Regions from separate parts of the Homo sapiens genome. Here region 2 is linked to region 1. A link means that fine-mapping ties the variant in region 1 to the plasma level of a protein whose gene starts in the linked region. Region 1 holds a variant in brackets. A gene starts in the other region. All regions are shown on their forward strands. Region 1 overlaps CD209 (CD209 molecule). Region 2 holds the start of MUC2 (mucin 2, oligomeric mucus/gel-forming).

What was found. PIP is the posterior inclusion probability: the model's chance that the variant is causal. Protein levels are from antibody-based Olink assays in UK Biobank. Linkage for the fine-mapping came from a reference panel and not from the study's own genotypes, which makes the PIPs less certain.
Region 2: it holds the start of MUC2, and the variant in region 1 is fine-mapped to the plasma level of the MUC2 protein (UK Biobank, PIP 0.92).

Annotation. Positions count from the first base shown.
Region 1 is chr19:7,737,909-7,740,794 of GRCh38, forward strand. CD209 (CD209 molecule) reads right to left here. Exons shown (of 7, transcript NM_021155.4): 7 at 2,085-2,886. It also overlaps the pseudogene LOC100129391. Among named protein-coding and RNA genes, the nearest start is that of CLEC4G, 7.2 kb to the left of the region's middle. The variant T/C (reference allele first, on the strand shown) is at 1,718.
Region 2 is chr11:1,073,430-1,076,329 of GRCh38, forward strand. It overlaps MUC2 (mucin 2, oligomeric mucus/gel-forming), which reads left to right and starts at 1,445. Exons shown (of 58, transcript NM_002457.5): 1 at 1,445-1,548; 2 at 2,222-2,492. The coding sequence starts at 1,473. It overlaps LOC107987157 (a long non-coding RNA gene), which reads right to left and starts at 5. Exons shown (of 5, transcript XR_007062544.1): 1 at 1-5.

The DNA of each region.
Region 1 (2,886 bases):
CAGCTACTCGGGAGGCTGAGGCAGGAGAATGGCGTGAACCTGGGAGGCGGAGCTTGCAGTGAGCGGAGATCGCCCCACTGCACTCCAGCCTGGGCGACAGAGTCAGACTTCATCTCAAAAAAAAAAAGGGAGGACATTCTGACACATGCTACAACATGATGAACCTTGAGGAAAATATGCTAAGTGAAATAAGCCAGTCATAATAAGACAAAGGCTGTATGATTCCATTCATGCGGGGTCCCTAGAGTCATCAGATTCATAGAAACAGAAAGTAGAATGGTGGGTGCCAGGGGCTGGGGAACGGGGAATGGGGAGTCAGTGTTTCCTGGGGACAGAGTTTCACTTGGGAAGATGAAAAAGTTTGCGAGATGAATGGTGGTGATGGTTACACAACAATGTGAATCTACTTTGTAAAAGAAAAGAAAATTTCATAGGCTGGGCACGGTGACTCACACCTGTAATCCTAGCACTTTGGGAGGCGAAGGCGGGTGGATCACCTGAAGTCAGGAGTTCGAGACCAGCCTAGCGAATGTGGTGAAACCTTGTCTCTACGAAAAATACAAAAAAATTGCCGAGCATGGTGGCGGGTGCCTGTGATCCCAGCTACTCAGGAGGCTGAGGCAGGAGAACTGCTTGAACCCAGGAGGCAGAGGCTGCAGGGAGCTGAGATTGCACCACTGCGCTCCAGCCTGGGTGACAGAGTGAGACTCTGTCTCAAAAAATAAAAATAAAAATAAAAATCCTTTGGGCTCCACCTACTCCACAGATAGATTTTCAAAATTCTGTTGAAGGATTTCCAAACAGATTTTAAAACAAACTTGACAAGCTCATTATTTGGAATATAATAAAGAGGTTATACTCTTTAGTTGGGAATAAATAGCAAAGCTACAAGTGGGGACAGTAACCTCTTGAGATGGGAAAACGGGGACGGAATGAGCTTTAGTTTTCACTGTAGAGATTGATACGTTTTGGTTCTGTGTGCACACGTGACTTATTCCACAAGTAAATGAAAACCTTTAAAGCCAGAGTAGACTCAAAAATCATCCAAAAATTGCACAAGAATACCTGAGAACATTTTGATAGAGAAGAGCCATGACCAGGCAGGCCACAGCGGCCCAGGCCTGTAAACTCAGCACTTTGGGAGGCTGAGGCAGGAGGATGAGTTGAGCCCGGGAGTTCAAGAACAGCATGGGCAACACAGTGAGACCCCATCTCTACAAAAAATTTTTTAAAAGTAGCTAGATATGGTGATGCACACGTGTGGTCCCAGCTACTCAGGAGGCTGAGGTGGGAGGATCACTGGAGCCCATGAGGTCAAGGCTGCAGTGAGCCATGATTGCACCACTGCACTTCAGCCTGGGTGACAGAGCAAGACCTTGTCTCCCACATAAAAGGAGCCATGCCTGGTAGTTATCAAAATATAAGCTTGGCTTGGGTTTCCCCTACTAAAGAGCTTGAGACAAGGATTTGGATATAAGTAGCTTATCTGGGAGGAGATTCCAAGAAGCATCAGCAGGGGATGGGAAGAATGAAGAGGAGCAGGTAGGGAAAGGAAGGAACCCAATACAAAGGCACCAATGAGCTGAAAAGGGCAATTGGGTCCAATCCCCCTGGGAGCCTCTGGGAGACGACATAGAACAAGCCTCACAGTTCCTCTGCCTGTTGAAGGTCAACTCTTAAGTAAGACGGAATTTAGCTTGCAAGCTGTTTATGAAGG[T/C]GCATCTTTGGGGTCAACATCAGTAGAAAGGAAGTGATGTTTGTGGTGTCTTATTTACACCAAAGAAATTCTCTAATTCTAACACTAGCTTCCTGGAGTTAGCACCACATTCCACAAATTAAAGGGCTAGGTCCCAAAAGACTGACCCTGCTTCAGATGCCAGGTGCAAAGACAGTCTTTGCACTGTCTACCCACACTTCTGCCAGGCTGGCAAAAAATTGTGGCTTCCCATAAGTCCATCTCAAGTTCAGTAATTTCCTAGAATGATTTAGAGAACTCGGGAAAACATTTTGCTTATGTTGTTGCCGAACTAAATTGGGTCAGTTCCCTGGCTCACAGTGGAAAACCAAACACTGAAGCACTGGGGTTTTGTAGAGAGAAAAATTTATTGCAAGGCAGCCAAGCAAGGACACAGGAGTCTGGCCCAAATCTGTCTCTCCAAGTTGGAGGCTGGGGCAGATTTTATATACAGAGGGTAGTGAGGCATGATATGATTGGATCTTGTAATGAGGGGATTCAGGAGGCTTGATCTGACTGGATCACGCCAGGGCTCAATCTGATTGGATCAAGGATCATGCCACGTGGTGTCCACTTCTTAACTCAGTCCCTGTTCCTCGGTCTGAGCACTTAGGTTCCACGTGGATTTGCACGCTTCGTTCATCTGGACATGCCCAGGGTATGTAACTTGCAACCTGGGGGTCCACGACAACTGAAAAACAACTCGCCATTTTATTACACAAAGTTGAACCAGATTGGGCTGAATCTGCGGTTACAATGTTTACCAGTTTATTATAAAGGATACAACTAGAGGGGCGGGGCGGTGCCGGCAAGATGGCTGCGCCCGAAAAGGTGACATTTCCAGAGAAACCAAGCCACAAAAAGTACAGGGCCGCCCTGAAGAAGGAGAAACGAAAGAAACGCCAGCAGGAACTTGCTCCACTGAGGGACTCAGGACTCTCACAGAAAGAGGAGGACACTTTTATTGAAAAACAACAACTAGAAAAGCTATGGGGAAGAGAGAGGCAAAGATTACATGAGGAGTGGTTGCTGAGAGAGCAGAAGGCACAAGAAGAATTCAGAATAAAGAAGGAAAAGGAAGAGGTGGCTAGAAAACGGCAAGAACAAGAGCGAAAGTTAAAGGAACAATGGGAAGAACAGCAGAGGAAAGA
Region 2 (2,900 bases), not on the chromosome of region 1:
CCCCAGGGCTCAGTGCCAGTGTGCGGAGGCCCACACCAGGAAGTGAACAATGATCTCCTCTGGCCTCGCCCAGCTGGCTCTGGTTTCCTAATCCCCGGTCCTCCTGGCAGGGGCCACACACTGAGCTTCCTCCACGTGCCCAGGTCCTGGCAGGGAGCGCAGACCCTGGGGCCTGGTGCTGGCGGGCACCGCAGGAGGGCGGGAGGGGCTTCGTCCCAGGCCCTGGGTCTGGGCAGCAGGTCAGCCAGGGAAACAGGCTTGGTGCTTTGGGCCCCGAGTCTCTATAACTGTTGGGGTGAGTCCCTCCCCACTGCCATCATGCTGCCGGCATGTCCCTGGCATGTTCAGGCCAAAGCCAGGAACTCAACTCAGGGCCCCTCTCTATTTTCAGGAGGAGAAAATTGTAGAGAGAGGGGAGGGCCCCCAGACCTCAGTTTACCCACTGGCGACACAGGGGTGCCTGCCTGTGCCCTCCCGGGCCGGGGCAAGCAGTGGTGGGCCCAGTGGTCTCGTAGTCTGGGGTCGGTGTGAGTTCCGGTTCTCCAGGCTTTTTTCCAGACAACTGCTGGGATTGGTGGGCGAGACCAAGGCTCATCAAAGGCACAGCCTTGGGGGCAGGATCCCCACCATGAGTCAGAGGTAGTTCTGGGGAGCCTGGGCAGGCTGTCACCTCCTCAGCTGTCAGGCCCGAGGTCCTCATGTGGTCCCCAGGAGAAGGGGCAGACGGCCACTTCCGGCCACCAGCCAGCTCCCTGTGTGCCTGATTCCGTAACATGTCCCCTGGCTGGGCATGTACTCCCCAAGTTCTAATTACATGTAACTGCAGAGAAGGGCTCAGCCTGGGAAAAGGATGGGCATAGGGGGTGGTTGGGGGCTGGGGCCTCTGACACAGCTCCATGAGCCCGGCCAAGAGTCCCACACAAGTCAGTGGCCCCCCCGGACCCTGAAGGATCCCACATCCTCCCTGCCCTCGGGGAGGCCCCTTTCTGGGGTCAGGCCTGGAAGCTGCCCCAGAGCTTGGGCCCCAGGAATGGGTTGGTCCTCCCAGCGTAACGTGAGCCTGATCAGGCCTGGGGACCTGCTCAGCGGGTGTCTGGGGGCCCATGGCGGGCTAAGGAGCCTGACCAGACTTGCTTCTGGCAGGACACCCCTCCCCCGGCCACCCTGGGCTCGCCCCTCTAGTAGCTGCATGTGTTCCCCGGGTGTGTGTTGGCATTCAGGCTACAGGGCTGCCTCATCCTGAAGAAGGCTGCGTTTACCCAGGGAGCCATAAAGAGATGACCTCCGATAACCTGAATCAATATTTCCCCATTGGGGCTCGGGCCCCCGCAGCTGTCTTCTTGATCATCTGGCAGATGCCACACCCACCCTTGGCCCTCCCCTGCCTTCCTGCCCTCCTACCCTCCTGCCAGGACATATAAGGACCAGACCCCTGCCCCCGGGCGCAACCCACACCGCCCCTGCCAGCCACCATGGGGCTGCCACTAGCCCGCCTGGCGGCTGTGTGCCTGGCCCTGTCTTTGGCAGGGGGCTCGGAGCTCCAGACAGGTGAGAGAGCAGACACAGGGGTCTGGGGCCTGGCAGAGTGTCCTGGGGGCAGGGCGAGGCGGGCGGGCAAGTCGCGTCTGGGAGGAGGAGCTGGTCCCAGAGTGCAGCCTGCGCGGCTCTGCTGAGGCTCCTGGCCCGGGTTGGTCCCTGGAAGCCCCCGGCCCTGCTGACTTTCAAGGAGCTGGAAGGTCGGGGCTCCCCTGCTATTCCTTTGGGGTTGACTGCCCGACGACAGTGTGGGTCTTGGGGCCAGCACCAGGTGGAAACAGCAGGTCAGGCCCCAGTGAACTGGGTCATTGTCCATAGGGGAGGAAGGGGTGGCCAGGATCCCACCAGAAGGCCCCATTCTCAGGTGGCAGAGACCCTTGAAGAGTTGGGGCAGCACAGCCCTTGCTGGGGAGCGGGGTGCCCAGAATGCCCTCTCCTACATCCCGCTTGGCACCCGGCCGCACTCCTCACCAGGCCGGGGGTAGAAGCCCTGAGACCCCTGTGGTGGGGTGACCAAGGCCCAGCAGAGGGCCCGAGGATAGGAAGGAACCTTTCCCGGCCAGGGGCCCTGTGCTGGGCTCGAAGCTGCTTCCAGGTGCTTCTTCAGGGGCCTTCTCTCGAGGGTAGCTTGGGCAGCCTTCCCCCTCCGGGGCCACTCACCCCTCATTCCCCGCTGCTCCCTCAGAGGGCAGAACCCGAAACCACGGCCACAACGTCTGCAGCACCTGGGGCAACTTCCACTACAAGACCTTCGACGGGGACGTCTTCCGCTTCCCCGGCCCCTGCGACTACAACTTCGCCTCCGACTGCCGAGGCTCCTACAAGGAATTTGCTGTGCACCTGAAGCGGGGTCCGGGCCAGGCTGAGGCCCCCGCCGGGGTGGAGTCCATCCTGCTGACCATCAAGGATGACACCATCTACCTCACCCGCCACCTGGCTGTGCTTAACGGGGCCGTGTGAGTGTGGTCGGTGGCACCCCTCCCACATCCTAGCAACGGGGGCTGATGTTTCCCAAAGGGATATTCCTTGTAGCCCTAGAAGACCCCTTCCGCCCCAGCACACAGCTCAGGAGAACAGCCTTGAGGTTTGGGTTCAGGTCACTAATTCATTCAACAAACACTGATGAGCCCCCACCATTCCCCCCATAGGCAAGGGGTTTCAGTTATCCCTTTGCCTGTGTGTCCCTGACAGCCCCTCCCCTCGGAGCCCACCAGGCTCCGGACAGACTTGGCACCCCTGGAGGCTGCATGTCTCTGGTCCTGTGCATGGAGTGGCCGTGTGTGCCCTCCCCAGGCTAGAGTTACAGAAGCCGGTGCAGGGGGCTGTGGGACCCCCTTCCCCATCCCCAGCTATTGCTCCCCTAT